Regions from separate parts of the Homo sapiens genome. Here regions 1, 2, 3 and 5 are each reported to be linked to region 4. The links are microRNA targets in miRTarBase. Many come from high-throughput screens and were not tested one by one. Region 4 holds a microRNA gene; each other region holds the end of a gene's coding sequence.

The links. Region 4 holds the annotated microRNA hsa-miR-513c-3p (UAAAUUUCACCUUUCUGAGAAGA, at 2,693-2,715, shown strand). A microRNA usually pairs through its seed, bases 2 to 8, with sites in the 3' UTR of a target mRNA and lowers its output. Matches are read on the target gene's strand: a 7mer-m8 pairs with bases 2 to 8, a 7mer-A1 pairs with bases 2 to 7 and ends in A, and an 8mer does both.
Region 1: miRTarBase lists REEP5 as a target of hsa-miR-513c-3p. Seed matches in the 3' UTR shown: 8mer at 1,834-1,841 and 7mer-A1 at 618-624.
Region 2: the mRNA of WDR33 is a reported target of hsa-miR-513c-3p. Seed matches in the 3' UTR shown: 7mer-A1 at 897-903, 7mer-m8 at 920-926, 7mer-A1 at 1,795-1,801, 7mer-A1 at 1,808-1,814 and 7mer-A1 at 2,183-2,189.
Region 3: miRTarBase lists SC5D as a target of hsa-miR-513c-3p. Seed matches in the 3' UTR shown: 7mer-m8 at 1,676-1,682.
Region 5: miRTarBase lists SLC25A37 as a target of hsa-miR-513c-3p. Seed matches in the 3' UTR shown: 7mer-A1 at 2,267-2,273.

Annotation. Positions count from the first base shown.
Region 1 is chr5:112,876,189-112,879,188 of GRCh38, forward strand. REEP5 (receptor accessory protein 5) reads right to left here. Exons shown (of 5, transcript NM_005669.5): 5 at 197-2,647. The coding sequence ends at 2,598. It also overlaps a transcript of SRP19 not described here. Among named protein-coding and RNA genes, the nearest start is that of SRP19, 16 kb to the left of the region's middle.
Region 2 is chr2:127,703,923-127,706,922 of GRCh38, reverse strand. It overlaps WDR33 (WD repeat domain 33), which reads left to right. Exons shown (of 22, transcript NM_018383.5): 22 at 371-3,000. The coding sequence ends at 600. SFT2D3 (SFT2 domain containing 3) reads right to left here. Exons shown (of 1, transcript NM_032740.4): 1 at 1,681-3,000. Among named protein-coding and RNA genes, the nearest start is that of SFT2D3, 3.9 kb to the right of the region's middle.
Region 3 is chr11:121,306,989-121,309,988 of GRCh38, reverse strand. SC5D (sterol-C5-desaturase) reads right to left here. Exons shown (of 5, transcript NM_006918.5): 5 at 1-2,932. The coding sequence ends at 2,477. Among named protein-coding and RNA genes, the nearest start is that of SC5D, 16 kb to the right of the region's middle.
Region 4 is chrX:147,187,700-147,192,431 of GRCh38, reverse strand. MIR513C (microRNA 513c) reads left to right here and starts at 2,645; the gene lies at 2,645-2,728. The region is part of intron 1 of LOC105373347 (periphilin-1); the gene reads right to left.
Region 5 is chr8:23,571,519-23,574,518 of GRCh38, reverse strand. SLC25A37 (solute carrier family 25 member 37) reads right to left here. Exons shown (of 4, transcript NM_016612.4): 4 at 1-3,000. The coding sequence ends at 2,664. Among named protein-coding and RNA genes, the nearest start is that of SLC25A37, 44 kb to the right of the region's middle.

The DNA of each region.
Region 1 (3,000 bases), not on the chromosome of region 4:
AGTTGGTATGTTTTCTTTAGGACAAGTCTTTTCCTCTGGTAGGCAAGAACCACCAGGAGAAAACTACAAGCCATGTGAGGAATAGAGTTAATAAAGAGCAGTGTTCATGGCTCATTTATCTGTATTTACTTAAAACTTTCCTTAAATAATTCTGGGTTAGGAAAAAAGCCCCACAAAATAAAATGAAATATAACAGTTAAATGAGAACTCAATTTTATTTACATCTATTTATTTCCATTCAGTGTATCACATCTTCAGGATAGGTGATAACAGTGTGAAGGGTGTGCTCATTTTCTTCAGCTGTGAGTAGAGGAGTCTTCCCGAGAGTAGCAGTTGTTGATCCAAATGATTGAAGCCTTCAGGTAAGGGAATAACTGCTGCAGGAATTCTTTCTTGAAGAATTTAAGCTGTTTGGTAGGAATTCTGTAACTACATACCTTTGAAACACTATTCACATTCAAATAAACGCTTGTTTTCTAGCCAGGCACAGGCTCAATTAGTTTTTCAAACTCTAGCCAAGGCAGTATTTCATTTGGGAAATCATGCAACAGAACTGCTCAATTCTTAACTTCTCCTGCTGTTAACATTTACACTTAGACTGCCAGCAACAGTTAACTTAAATTTTGGTCTCAAGGGAACAAAAAAAAATTGCATTCAGAATTTAATATAGTATTTTAAAACTAATTTTAGCCTGTAAGTCATTATGAGCAATAGTAACTTTTGTACCTCCTCATCTTGTCTGATAATATATTCTATATGCTGTCAATCTGATTATATAGTCTATATGCTAGAAGTTGCTGATTTTCATTCTGCCACCAAGAAAACTGTACTTTTATTTATGGGAAAAGGATTTAAATACTCCTAGATACTTAAAATTTTTTTAATCTAAAAGTTGATTTTCTCCCAAGAACAATTTTGTTTGCTTTCTACAAAGTTTTAAGTTTAATAAAATGCCGGTAATCACCACTGTTTTCCTCCCCAAAATAAATGCTCTGATCCATATTATATTAGAGTGATACTGTCACTTAGTATTGATATCTTTAATATTTTTTACATCATGAGACATTGTTATGATCTTACCTGATTGTTATCTCAAGGTGAGCTAATCATCTTTATTTGCCTTAAAAAATACTGTACTGGCTGGATATTTAATCTTGTTAGTTTAGTTATACACTTGTTTTAGTCGAGTTTAATTCAAAAGGACTCTTAACAGTATGGTGTAAAACTCAGATTTTCTAGTCCAGACAAATTGCTCTCTATAACGATTTGGCAGATCAATGGAGACATCCGTTTTAACTTTACTGTTCTGTACTTACTATGTAGTCATGTGCAGCTTATCAACACAAAGAATACGGATGAGGGCATTTAAATGGACTACAAGTGACTCTGACTTGTAAACTAGGGAAGCCTCTTGTGTTTGACCTTAAAGGCCAGAGAAAAACTGAAGATAGATTGACTTAACTATTGCCAAGCAGATTATGGGTTACTTTATACTTCCTTTCATTCTCCCAGAATTGCTCTTAGAGCTAGGTGTCGTCATTAGCATGTTGTTGCTAATGATACAAACAAGAACATACATGTAATCAGAGGTGGACAAATCTTCAGAAGTTCCTTAAACTGGTTTAAAAAAGAAGATTGGGAAAGAAGACTAAATCAACATGTTTCTCCGCTTTGAAGATAAAACCAGAAATGGTTTCCATTGTAGCATCTTGACAATAGACAAATATGTAAAGTTTATAGCAGATAAGACAGTATTACTAGTTTTTCAGGGAATTGAGAGTTACAGGTTACTCTGTGTGTGTGTGTGTGTGTGTGTGTGTGTGTGTGTGTGTGTAAATTTCCCGATTTATCACTAGAGTGAGTAACTAACTAACTAACTGCTTTATAAAGCTATCCTGGTATTCATATGCCATATACTACGGAAACAACCAGGCCAATCTCCATTCGATTTCATTTCTCACTTTGTTCACTTGCATATTAATCACGTATTTCCTAAAGTATTATTTAGTAGACCACACCAGCACAATGGTTCCTCCAGCTTTTGGCAGGTGGTCTTACTGTACAGAAGTTATAAATGACACATACAACCTTCCCCTGCTCCCTCCCCATGAGCATGATGCATGTTGTAGTCAGACAGTAACATTTCCATATGTACATGTGCACAAATACATTAAAAACATTTCAGAATTATATAAAATTGTACATTACAGGAAGTAGAACCATAAAGATTATCCTAAATGTAACTACAGAGAAAATGCGTGCAGGGAGAGCCCAGTAAAGTACACAGCCTGTGGGGTATATAATTTTATTTTAAGTTTATATTTCCTGCAGGATAGCAACATACATCTTTTCCTACCCAGAGGCAAAATACATTTTCCAAAAACGTGGACACTGCCCACTGCATTAAGTTTAAAGTGCTCCCTATATATATAGACAGTAAAAGTAAGCAAAGAAACTTACAACACATTCCAATCTTTAATATCTCAAAAATGTTTCCAAGGCAACATTATTAAAATAATTATACCACAGTCCCTAATATAACATCAAGCTCCAGTAGGAAGGTACAGAGAGGGCAGGAAGTTTCCATCCAGTCTGGTTTAGGTGCTCTTCTTTTCTTCACCCAGTAAATTCACGGTAGCTTTCTTCGCTGTTTGTTTGTTAGGAGGGAAAGAAAAATATATCAAAGCTCTTTCTTTGGAATGCAAGCTTGCAAGCTTTGTGCCTAATGTAGCTACTAGATAACAAAACTTGGATGACTCATGTTCAGGTGCGATCATGTTGGGGTTTGTGGTCTGGGCTAAGAGGGTTTCCAGGAAATGGAGAAGGTACCTCTTAGAGCACAAATCCTAAATACTTGAGCAAAATACTTGAAGGTCATCTAGCCTAGCCCCTTGTTGTGACAGTGTCACCGAAACTGTCTGCCCTCTATTCTCCTTTAAGCATTGAAAGAAGCAGAGATTCCTTAAGAGTAGTGTTCAAATTCTATTTGTATCTGTGTGC
Region 2 (3,000 bases), not on the chromosome of region 4:
CCTTCCCTCAATATACCCTGGTGGCTGGGAGCAGGCAGATACACTTCCCATGGCCTGGGACATGGCCCAGTGTGGCCCGGGTCTCCCTGAAGGTGCTCCTTGCTCATCTCTTGGCTTCCTGTCGTCTGTCACACAGCCCTGGGGGCATGGATCTGGCTGATGCTGAGGCCCATGGCCATGAGCCAGGAAGGGGGAGGCAGGGTCAGGAAAGGGTAGAGGCACACCTCTCAGTACGCTGAATACCACTGCCAGTCTCCCTGGCACCCACCAGAACTGGTCCATTGTCATCAGAGAGTAAAGTTTGTACTGGGAGTTACTGACAAACAGTTGCTAATACAAAAAGTCCCATGTGAAATTTTCTTTGTTTCAGGCCGAGGGGGCCCAGGACCTGCTCAGAGAGTGCCCAAATCTGGGCGTTCCAGCTCCTTAGACGGAGAGCACCACGATGGATACCACAGAGATGAACCTTTTGGGGGCCCTCCAGGCAGTGGCACCCCTTCTCGAGGGGGCCGGAGTGGCAGTAACTGGGGTAGAGGGAGTAACATGAACTCTGGCCCGCCGAGGCGAGGAGCTTCACGGGGTGGTGGAAGGGGTCGGTAGAAGCTGGAACTGAGTACCCTGAGGCCTCTCTGGACAGTATGTAAGAACTTCTTGTGGACTCACCAAGAGAAACAAAAGGAAGCCTGCACCATTGTAGCCCTGAACTCTTTTCTGGGCACCTGAATCCCAGGAACCCTCAATGAGGTCTTCAAGATGAAGAGACTGCTGCCAGCTACCAGCCTGGCTGGCCCTGTCCTGTCCACCCTCATTGCCCCAACTCCCATGTTGTTTTGTGAAGATAAAAGCTGGGATCTTTTTCTTTTTTTTAAGTCTCACAAGACATGGGGCATCTCCACAAATTTAAGTTCCTGTCCATTTGGAAATTTGTTTCTATGTGTACAGTTTGTCAGAGAAAAACAAAGTTTTTGTATGAATACAGAATGTGATTTACGCAAGAATTGACAGAAAACTAGTTGTGAAGTGCTTGCCTTAAGGAAACCTTTGGTTTCCATCGCATCCCATCTGCCAAGGAATGCACGGTTGTTGCTGATGTTCATGAGCATATTAACCACTAGGTTATCTAAATTAATCTCAGCTGTGAACTTTGTGTTTTTCAACACATTCTGTCACACCATTTTTGTGACAGAAAAATACTTGAAAATTATTCTAATGTAGTTTGTAGTAGGTTCAAATTTTTATTCAGACATGCTCTGACAGATGGAAAATTGTACTCTGAAGAGAAAATGCAATCTTCTGGATGTCCAACGAGGGAGCTTCCCCTTGGAAGCATCTCCTAAGAATCACAGTTTAGGTTTGAATCGCCTTGTTATGATGAGGAGAGGAACTTGATGTTAGTCAGAAATAAAGTCACATGCCCTTTAGATAACTTGAAATCACACATGGAGTTGATAAGGAATGGACCAAAATAGGTCCTCAAACAATTTTGCAACACTTAATTAAGTTTTCCTCTCTTCCTCTTCCATACTATGTGGAAATACCAGTGTTACGGCAGGGCGTACTTCTAACTCACAGTAAGCCAGATAGATCTTGTCCATGGCAAATTCCTTGTTTAAAATAAACATACCATTTAGCCCAGTTTGGATTGGAAGCCAAAAATTCAGTTTGTTATATACCCCATGATACTTTCTATACTGACCTTTATTTTGGTTTTACATGGAAGCTTTTATTAAAAGGACTGTCCTATGGCCACCTTAACATTTCATTACATTGGCAGCTTCAGTTTTGGCATCAGTCAAATTTATTTGGCAAATTTAGTGGTGCTGGAAGTTTCTTTTTTTCTTTTCCTTTTTTGACAGAGTCTTGCTCTGTCACCCAGCCAGGAGTGCAGTGGTGCAATCACGGCTCACTTCAGCTTTGACCCTGCCTCAGCCTCCCTAGTAGCTAGGACTACAGGCATATGCCACCATGCCCAGCTAATTTTTTGTGTGTGTGTTTTTTGTAGAGATGGAGTTTCACCACTTTGTCTATGCTGGTTTCAAACTCCTGGGCTCAAGCGGTCCACCTGCTGTGGCCTCCCAAAGTGCTGGGATTGCAGATCTGAGCCACAGTACCTGGCCGCTGGTGCTGGAAGTTTCAATGGTTGCTTAGAAAAGGCATACTGATATAGTTTAACAGGATATGAAAATTTAACTGGTTCTCTATGAATGTAAAAAACAGCAAAAGCTAATTGATTTCTGTGGAGTGAGAAAATGTCAGCCATATACACTGCTTTTCAGTGTTAGAATCTAGAGACTATTTTTTTTTTAACTTTGAAATTACAGCTTATTTAATCAGCGCTCCACCATAAACATGCTATTAGGAGGCTCAAGATTGCTTTAGGTTATGGGTATTTCTTCACTCACCCCCAACTGGTATAGCTTAAAGAGAGAGAAACTGTAATCAAATTTCATGAAGCTAAAACCGGATCCAGAGACCAAACCCATATCAAGATTAGACTTTTTTTCCCTGAGATTCTAGTGGAAAAATTTTCATTATTTTGGGCTTTAACTTTAGAAACATAGTATCTCAGTAAGCAGATAACCAGATCACATTTAAAAATTTTCATTTTACCTTGAAGCTCTACTGGACTTGACAGATCACATTTTGAGAGTGAATTCATTTAAACAATAAACCTCTACATTATACTTATTAAATATATATGGCATTTAAAAACATCACTGTCAGCATACATACTAGATGTTGTGATTTGAAGCTTATAAAAAGTAGATTTTCAATGATGTTTGATTTGAGAAAAAATTTTTGAGACAAGGTCTCGCTGTTGCCTAGGCTGTGGTGCAGTGGTGTGATCACAGTTCACTGCAGCCTCAACCTCCTGGGCTCAAGTGATCTTCCCACCTCAGCCCCACCCCAAGTAGCTGGGATCACAGTTGTGTGCCACCATATCTGGCAAATTTTTTGAAGATTTTCTGTGGCGATGGGGTTTAACTGTGTTGCCCAGGC
Region 3 (3,000 bases), not on the chromosome of region 4:
CATGGAAGACAAAGACTCAGTCTCTGTGTTTCTGAAAGGTCTTCTCGAACCATATCCACCCACTTCTCAATTTCTACCACAAAAGTAGAAAACGTAACCTTGATTTTCACTTTCTGTCCTGTAACTATAAAAGTCATCTGTAGAAGGTAATTTGGGTCCTCACTTCCATAAATATTCTCTGACTTCCTCTAATAGAAAGTAGGAGAATGTGGCAGTACTGTATATTACAATGTTAGGACTACTTAACATAACGCTGCTTTAAAAGACCAGAATTTGAGACGGGTGAAAGGGCAGGGGCAAGTTTGATTATTCCTAACATCTATGAGGAAGCCTCTGTCTTCCCCATAGGAAGCTGTCCTTTCTTCTCTATTAGTTATATAGGAATAAGAATCTAGAGGAAGCTTTAAACATTCATATTGGAGTTAAGAATTAAAGACACTGAGATGATTAGTGTGTGGATAACCTGAAATACTTTATGGCTCATTCACCATTTCAACATCAACAAGAGGAGAACACCACAAATACGGCAAACTGTCTAGCTGCTCAAGAAAATGGTGCCCCCTTCCTCCCAGGCACACAGCTGGACACATTTCCCAAAATCTCTCTAGGTGGGCCATGTGACGGAGTTCTGTCCAAAGGAACATGGGCGGAAGAGATATGCACCACTTCCAGGCCTGACCCAGAAACATTTTCCACACAGACTTTTCCTTCTTTTCCTATGTGCTCTTTCAACAAAGAGGGCTCTATGGACTGAGAGAAAGGCAGAGCCCCAAGAGGAAGGAGCCTGGGTCGCAGAAAGACTAGGTGGAAAGCTGTCCACTGACCACAAACATCCACATGGGACATCATATGAGAGAGAAATAAACCTGGGAATAGTTACTTAACTTCTTTGGGTCCTAGTCTCTGGGCAAAGAGGAAAAGCTCAATAAATATCAGCTGACATTATATTAGGAAATAAAGTTTACTTCTCCTTAATTTCTTTTTCTTAGGCAAGGCGGAGCACCGGGGGTGAGTGGGATTGGTGAAAAGCACTAAATGACATTTGCCTATTACAAAATGCTAATTGGTACATTTAAATAAGATGACATTGTGACAATAACTCACAGATTAAAGACATTTTCTTCTGGATCCCAGACATTAGATTTTAAGACTGATTTCTTGCTAAAAACACTCAAATCTAGTTAAAATGTGAAATATAAACAGAATGTGGTACCCACTTCTTTCCCCCTGTGACACTGAGTGTCCGGGGATGTTCTAAAACACAATTAACAATCCACATCATTTCTGTGGCTTCAAATTGGCACAAAATCTGTACAAAGAATACTTTGTGCTGCTATAATACTCAACTGATACAGTTTAATTATGATCAACTTTTATTGATTTTACATAAATAGCTTATAGAATGCCTTTACAAACTATGTTTTTGCAATATATTTGTTACAACACACATTTCCTTATGAATGTATTTGTTAAATCTTTTTGCAGAGGAAGTAGGGAAAAGTGAGGGGAGAAGAGGAGGAATAAGATTTTAGAACTAATCGTCAGCAATGGGCCTAGGTATTTGGCAATTATTTCCTTTACAAAAAAATTACAGGTTTGTAACTTCAAACATCAAAAGTGTAGTGCATCAATTTAACTAAAAAATCAGTAGTGCCTAATATATTATCTGGGCATCAAATTTCTTTTTTTAAATATATCCAGATTCACATATTTTTACTCTTATTAAATAATGGTTTTAAATAATAATCATCACAATGTTTAGCTACATAATCCCAGATCTGGATTAAATCATGGTGATATCGATATTTTTAAATTCCAATTTATTTGTTAATCAGTAAAATGTAATAGGTGATAGTGTGTCCAGAGAATGAGCCTCCTATGTGTAGGAAGACGATAGTCTTATTACACCTGCTATCAATTAGGTCATTTACATAGCTGCTAATGTATCAGAATTTTTTTCCACACTGATGTAGTACTTTATTCAAGTCAAAACAAGTTATCATTATCATACCAACGTTGAAGAATTAACCATTCCTGAAACAAGAAACAATCTTTACATTAGTATTTCTTGGTTATGGTGCTTAGTCTTGGTATTATTAAGCACAATGATTCTTAATAAACATGGGTGGATGAAGGCAAATGCATATAGCCTAGTCCCCTCAATAATTTATTCTCCATCTTATTTAAAATTGTTGTTGAGGCTATACAAACTACAGATCTGCTGCTAGAAAGATACAAGTTGTCCCCCGAACAACATCTGGCATTTTAAGCATAAGATTAAAGTCCTGGTGTTCACAGCATCTTCTTCTGACCTACCACTAGGATCATTCCTCAGCAGTGCCCACGATGCTGATTTCCAAATGATACCATTTACTATGTATCTTGACTGTATGGATATTATTTTTTCCTTATTAAAAAAAAGAAATACGATGATATTTCCTTCTTTGTCCTTACTTAAGAATAACTGGGCAATAATCTATTCAGTCTTTGTAAACTCTCCATTGAATAATTTTTCATTCTTACAGCCATTTCCTGAATGGCTGCTGCGCTTTCCCTCTGTCATCTCCTTCACATAACTGAGCGGTCCCTTCCCCTCAAAGGATGAAGGATTTTTGAATGAGCCGCCAATCCTATCCCACAAAGTGAAATATTGTCCATAATTATAGTCAAAGAACATATGGTGGTCTGTATGATGAGCTGAGCCATTAATAAATGGCTGTAAGATTTGGGGGACACGAAAATCACCGTCATGAATGGAAATTGTCCAGATATTAACCAAGATGTACAGACTTAAATAAACCACCTTGTGTAATGGAAAGATAAAAGGGTATATATGGTAAGGTAGACTCTGAAGAAAGCCATCAATAGGGTGAAAAGCATGACTTGCAAATGGAGTAGGAATCTTCCAAATATGGTGAGGTTTATGTAGGCGCTGCAGGAGAAAAGGACACAATTAGCACTGCAAACTTTACCCCGTGCAACATTCAACTTAGCTTCTCA
Region 4 (4,732 bases):
TTTTATTATTTTCAATCAGTCAGTAACAGATAACAGTGTGAATAAATATGTATGTGGGAATTAGAACATTAATGAAAGTAATTAACATATATATTACAAAGGATGGGGTGAATTGTAAGTATACCATCATAAGATTTTTAAACTATACAAAAAGTAGGATCATATTCTTTGAAGATAGACTGTGATGAATTAAATATGGACACTGGAAACTCCAGAGCAACCACTATCTTTTTTTAAGTGACCAACTAATAAGAGTGCAGAAAATATAACTGAATGATAAAAATACTGAGTCTGCCATCAGGCAGAAAAACAGGAAAATAGGAATTAGAAAAGGATGAAACATAGAAAACAACTAGAAAACCGGTAGATTTAAATGCACATATATAAATAATTGTATTAATATAAATGATATAAATGCTTCTATTAAGACAGAGATTGTCAAATTACATAAAAATAAGAAACCACTAATATACTATGTCAAACAAACCCATTTTAAATATGAAGACCTATGTGAAAGTTGGGTAAAAGTAAAAAGATGGAAAATATATTAATGCAAACACTAAATATTAAAGCTAAAAAATCTTATTAATTATTAATAACACCACCCCGCCCACACACACACACACACAGAGAGAGCACCCCAATAAATGAACGATAAAGAACCATGGAGCTAAGAGAAATAGAATAGCATTTCCTGTCTTCCAGCCCATTATCTGTCTCGTCTCTCTCTCGTATTAATTTCTATGGATTCTTCCCCCTGCATAGCCTGAAGAAGAAATTAAATTTCTGCTCTCTCTAACCTAGTTTTCTCTGACTCTTCTGCACTTCTCTGCATCCAGGTGGTTGTATTCTGTGGTTTTTCTGTTGGAATTTAGGTCTGTGCAGCACAGCTGGAGTTTTAGGACAACAGAAAGCTTTAGTGAGTGGTTGGTCCTTTGTACTTAACTGTAATTTTAAGGGTTTTTTGTTTTTGTTTTTTTGAGACAGGGTCTCGCTCTGTAACCCAGGCTAGAGTACATTGGCACCATCTCTGCTCACTGCAACCTCTGCCTTCCTGGTTCAAGTGATTCTCCTGCCTCAGCTTAGAGTAGCTGTGATTACAGGTGCAAGCCACTACACCTGGCTACTTTTGTATTTCTAGTAGAGATGGTGTTTTACCATGTTTGTTTGACCATGTTGGTCAGGATTGTCTCAAACTTCTGGCTTCAAGTGATCTCCCCACCTGGGCCACCCTAAGAGCTGGGAATTCAGGCATGAGCCACCATGCCCGGCTGAGTCTGAAGATTTTTTTGAGACAGATTTTCACTCTTGTTGCCCAGGCTGGAGTGCAAAGGTGCAACCTTGGCTCACTACAACCTTTGCCTCTTGGGTTCAAGTGATTCTTCTGCCTCAGCCTCCAGAGTAGCTGGGATTACCGGCGCCCACCACTACGCCGGGCTAATCTTTTGTATTTGTAGTAGAGATGGGAGTTTTCCCACGTTGTCCAGGATGGTCTCGAACTCCTAACCTCAGATGATCTGCCCACCTTGGCCTCCCAAATTGCTGGGATTACAGGAGTGAGCCACCGAGCCTAGCCTGACTTTGAGGATTTTTTTTTTTTTATTACACTTTAAGTTTTAGGGTACATGTGCACATTGTGCAGGTTAGTTACATATGTATACATGTGCCATGCTGGTGCGCTGCACCCACTAACTCGTCATCTAGCATTAGGTATATCTCCCAATGCTATCCCTCCCCCCTCCCCCCACCCCACCACGGTCCCCAGAGTGTGATATTCCCCTTCCTGTGTCCATGTGATCTCATTGTTCAATTCCCACCTATGAGTGAGAATATGCAGTGTTTGGTTTTTTGTTCTTGCGATAGTTTACTGAGAATGATTTCCAATTTCATCCATGTCCCTACAAAGGACATGAACTCATCATTTTTTATGGCTGCATAGTATTCCATGGTGTATATGTGCCACATTTTCTTAATCCAGTCTATCATTGTTGGACATTTGGGTTGGTTTCAACCATTGTGGAAGTCAGTGTGGCGATTCCTCAGGGATCTAGAACTAGAAATACCATTTGACCCAGCCATCCCATTACTGGGTATATAACCCAAATGACTATAAATCATGCTGCTATAAAGACACATGCACACGTATGTTTATTGCGGCATTATTCACAATAGCAAAGACTTTGAGGATTTTTAATGAGACAAGCAAAATTACAGGAAAACCAATGGGATAATTCAGACAAGGATAACTCACCTCTGAAAAAGAGGAGAAGTGAAAAGCTCTATCATTGCTCAGCCTAAAAATCGGCGTGTTAATTAGCTGTTCATGGTGGTGCACAGCTTTAATCCCAGCTACTCAGGAGGCTGAGGCAGAATCACCTGAACCCGGGAGGCGGAGGTTGCAGTGAGCCAAGATCACGCCAATGCATGCCAGTCTGGGCCAGATTCCGTCTCAAAACAAAACAAAAATCTGCATGTTAATATCTCACTCAGGGCAGGGTGAAAAGGGGAGTGCTAGGGGCTAGAAGTTGCATTGTTACTTGGCATAAATCTTGGTGGCCATGCGAAGGCATACACCTATAGGGACTTGAATAAAAACGGCATGAATAGGGAACATTTGGTCTGGGATGCCACATTCAGCCATTCAGCGTACAGTGCCTTTCTCAAGGAGGTGTCGTTTATGTGAACTAAAATATAAATTTCACCTTTCTGAGAAGAGTAATGTACAGCATGCACTGCATATGTGGTGTCCCTAGGGATGGGGCTGTAGCTGCGAGCATGGTGATGCCTGTTTTGCATCCTGTGCACCCACTCCTCAGTGCTGGGCTACTTCAAGGAACTTTTTGTGCCTTCTAGACGACTACACATAAGAACTGTGGACTCCTGAGAAAACGCATGCACTTTGGTTCCTTAAGAATTTATCTACTTTTGCCAAATGAGGCTTGGCTCAAATAAGAAATACGTTGTATAGAGGCCACAGCCATTCTTCGTCAGCTGAGACATTTTACTCCAGATTCCTCAATTCTCTAAACTCTTTTCACTGATCAACTAGTCATCATTTGCAAGGATTGTCCTTTAGTGCTCCCAAAAGGCTCTCCTGCCTCTCAGGTCCCTTCATTGCTGATCCACAGTGTCCATTTTCTGTCAAAGACTAAAACATTTTCTCATTGACTGTTAAAATACCTTTCAAAGCCTTCAGTCACCAATTTATGAAGGGTTAAGCATAGTCCACCCAAGAATATTTCACCCTTTTTAATTATCTTTTTTCCCCATTTTTTAAGAGTATATTTGAAGAATGGAAGGGTATGACAGAATTGATACTCAAGAGATATCTCCTAGGCTTCTCTCCCCATTTTCTTTTGGTGACGCTTAACTCTTAACCTAATGGAGAGAAATAGAGGGAAATAAACACACACACACACACACACACACACACACACACACACACACAGAGAGAGAGAGAGAGAGAGAGAGAGGAGAGAGAGAGAGAGAGAACATGCAAGAGAAAGACAAGCACCAGACTATGTAAGGCCATCTGCAGCATTAATCTAGTATACATGTTTGGGAAGTAGGTTATAAATAAGCTATTTATATTGTGGAAATGTGTAAAAAATGTTATAAATAGTAAGTGATTAATACAATTTTGATTCCAACTGAAACAGAGGCTACAGCATAAACACCGAAAGGGAAAAACTATAAAAAACAATTACTATATGGTTACAGGCAGGATTTTGGTTTATGTTTTTTTAGATTCAGAATGTATGAATATGTATAAGACCATTAATGTCTGAAAGTAAAAAAAACAGTTGAAGTATCTTTTCCATAATGAAAAACATTGTAATAATAGAATACATACAATCTTTTTGGGGTGGGGGCAACATTCTGAACAGTAAAAAAATTTTGTCACTTTGCAATACTGTATGTACATAGAATTTTCCAAAGTGATAACTGTTTTTAGTATATAATTTCTAAAACTGTATTATAGTGATGCATGTTTACTTATATAACTTTAAGTGATATCTTAAAATGAAATAAAAGAGAATTTAGTTGTTATCATACCTCTGTTATGATTTCTCAAAAGAATAGTATATTTACTGGTATTTGTGTTTTTTTTCAGTGAAATACTGTTTTGTATTACTCAGCCTTTTTTCTTCCAATTTATTAAGGTTTAACTGACATAAAAATCATATTTAAGGTGTACAACATGACGTTTTGATATATGTGTACATTATGCAATGATTAAATCAAGCTAATTGAAAAATAAAATATGAACATAAAATATTTATTTGAAACTCTAAGAAAAAATTACAAGATCTCTGTGGTAGGCAGAGTAACAGCCCCCGCCCAAACAATGTTCACAATGTAACCCCTGAACTCGTAAGCATCATATTTTATTGTAGAAGAAAATTTGTAGATGTTATTAAATATTTTGAGATTGGGATTATCCTAGATTATCTAGGTGAGCCCAACATTATCACAAGGGCCCTTATACGTTGGAGAAAGGTGGTTAGAATGAGAAACATTGCAAAATACTATAGTATTGACTAGAGGTAGAGGTAAAGGCCATGAGCCAAAGAATGGAGAAAGTAACTAGAATCTTCTAAAGACAATCAAGTAGATTCTCCTCTAGAGCCAACAGAAGGAACAAAGCCCTGCCAATGCCTTCATTTTAGCCAAGAGAAACCTAATTTAGATTTTTGACCTTTAGACTCTAATATAATAAATTTGTGTTGTT
Region 5 (3,000 bases), not on the chromosome of region 4:
GGGGCCTGCAATCAGGGCCCACAGAGCTCCAGGGTCCGGTTTTTGCCTTTCCTTTTTGACAGAGTCACTCTGTCGCCCAGGCTGAAGTGCAGTGGCACAATCTCAGCTCACTGCAACCTCCACCTCCTGGGTTCAAGCAATTCTCCTGCCTCAGCCTCCCAAGTAACTGGGATTACAGGTGCCTGCCACCATGCCCAGCTAATTTTTTGTATTTTTAGTAGAGATGGGGTTTCATCATGTTGGCCAGGCTGGTCTCAAACTGCTGGCCTCAAGTGATCCGCCTGCCTCGGCCTCCCCAAAGTGCTGGGATTACAGGCATGAGCCACCACACGCCACCTTCACCTCTCCTTCTTGCATCCCTCTAACCAAAGGAGTGCTCCTAGAGAAATCAAGTTTATTTTCTAAACACCAGTGAAAGCAAAATCCAGTAGGAAATACCTTGCTTCAGCGTGGCATATCTTAAGTGGACCAAAAGGGGTGGTAGGATAATTTTTTTACAAATTTGCTTTAAATTCTACTTTGAAATTTAGAATTTGATTTTTTTCCCCTCCATTTGCAGAATTTAACACCATTTAACACGAACCCAAGGCAGGTTGAGAGCGGAGATGTAAACATTTTCAACAGTAGCGTGGACTTTACGGCTTTCTACATCCCCATGTGGGTTGAGGCTGCAACTGGTTTTGGGGAGTGGGGGGCAGAGCAGGGAGAAGGCGTTAACTGCCAGATGGGACAGGGCAGCAGCCAAGCCCCACAGCCCAGCTGCAAAGGGCTGTTCACGGGGCACACGTGGGAGGTACCCAGTTTGGCTCTTTCCCATCCCTGATCTGAAAAAGGAACTCCACTGACTGATAAAATTCTTCATCGCTATTAGGGCAAAATCTACTCCCCAAGGCACTGTGTGCATGGTCCCAAGATGGAAATTCTCCACGTGTTACTTCCTAGGCAGTAGCACCACTCAAAAGAATCCAGGCCTGCGCCTCCTCGGTAAGATGCACCACGCTGACCGTGATGGGTGGCGGCAGGTCAGGACCCGGCTCACTGAAATGCAAACATACATGAGCTTCCTGCTCATTTTTAAAGACAAGCTCCGGTGAGGGCTCCAAATCAGAGACAGTGCAGCTCGTCTCGTCGGTATTCCCTTGCACGGCAGCCTGGCAGAGCACCAAATGGCACAGCTAGGGAAAACGGGCTTGTATTTTCTCTGAGCGGCAATCTGACTCGGCACACACCATTTCAGAAAGCGAGGCTGCGAAGCCTGTGTTCTCGGGTGACGCAGAGCAGACAAGGATGCAGAATGGCTTCTGGAGAGGGGTCTTCCGACTCGGGCATGAGGGTCCAGGTCAGACCTCAGCCGCAGGGCCCTAGCAGATAGGCCTGGCTCTTGTCACATGCAGTGAGAAGCTGTGACATGAGAATTAATGGTTGGGACAAGACAGGGACAAAGACTGGAGACATGCTTCCCTAGACTGCACAGGGAAACACAGGAGATGAGATTCAGTCAAAACACACATAGATCACGTTACCTGAAGTGCCTGAGTTAAAAGGCTGATGCAGAAATAAGTCCTAGGATGAAGGTAGGATTTATCCCAAACACCTGCCCCACAAGTCGCCAAATGCTGCCTATCAAGGGCTTCTAAGTGCTGACCGGGGAAGGCAGGCATTCACATCACTCACAACCAGGGAAGGAAGCAGTCTCAGCAGGTTTATGCCCAGTCACCCCAATTCTACTGGGCTCCACCACCCTCCAGCGGGCGAGATCCTGCCACCCAGCATGTGTGCGTGTGTGTACACAGCAAGAGAAAATAGGCCAGGGCCAGATCTCTGGTCCTGGAATTTTGGGGAAAGACAAAGGAAAAAGGCACATGAAGGTGGCTGATTGAATTTAAAAGAAAAAAAAAGGTAGCTGCAAGTGACATATCATTATTTTGATTTTTTTAACGTACCTTTTTTCCCCCATGAAAAGAGAAATTCAAAATATAAACTTTATTATTTTACATTCAAGTGAAACTTCCATCTGGAGGGGCTAAACACAGCTGCCGGCCACATTCACTGATTTATTACTTTGTTGCCTTTTTCGTTCACCTGATGGAAGAATTCAACCCTCTTAAAAACATAACAACAACAAAAACAGCTGGAGAGTCCCAGCCGTAATACTAGGTGTAGACACGCACAAGCACACACACAAATTCAAAAACTTCTACATAGAAAAATAAAGGATAAACATTATCCATCTATTTTGTACTGTGTAATGCAACTTTTATATACATAAATTTTTTTTTTTTTTTTTTTTTTTTTTTTTTTTTTTTTTTTTTTTTACTGTTTTCAGTCACTGCAAATTTTCTTCCCTCCTCTGGGATCTAAGGATCCAGGGAGGAGGCTGCCACAGTGAAGCAGAAAAGCTACATTCTGCCCAGGGAGGAAGAGAAAAAGCAATTTCTCGCTCCCCTTCCCAAGTCCTTCCTGTCCACCACCACCTCGGATGTCCCCGCACACAGCCTTCCGGTGAGCGGCCGTGCCGTCCCCTCCTCTCTCTAAGGCATTGGGGAGCAGAGGGCCCATAGGCAGCACCCTGCAAAAAAAAAATGATCTACGTGTGAGGAGAGGGCAAGGGGCTGGATGCAGGCAGAGAATGACTTTAAGAAAAGATTCTATGATCCCTTCCTTTAGTATGGAGCTCGATTTTCCAGCTGGCGCTTGGTGAGAAAGTACTTGAAGAACTCATAGACAGACCAAGAAATGGCGGTGGAGGGCATCTGGTAGATGACACGCGCCTGGATGCCTTTGAAGTAGCCGGCCAGGCCGTTGAGCTGGTACACCGTCCGGAAGGCATTGGCCATACCCGACAGCCGGCCGCTGATGTTGGCCAGCGAGAGGGCCACGTTCTCCTGAGTGTTCAGAAGGGTCTTACAGACGTCCAGGGGGGTCGTGGCGGCCGCGGCGAGGGCCCCGGCCAGCCCGCCTGAGATGATGTGGGACTGCGGGTTGTAGGTCCGGTGGGGG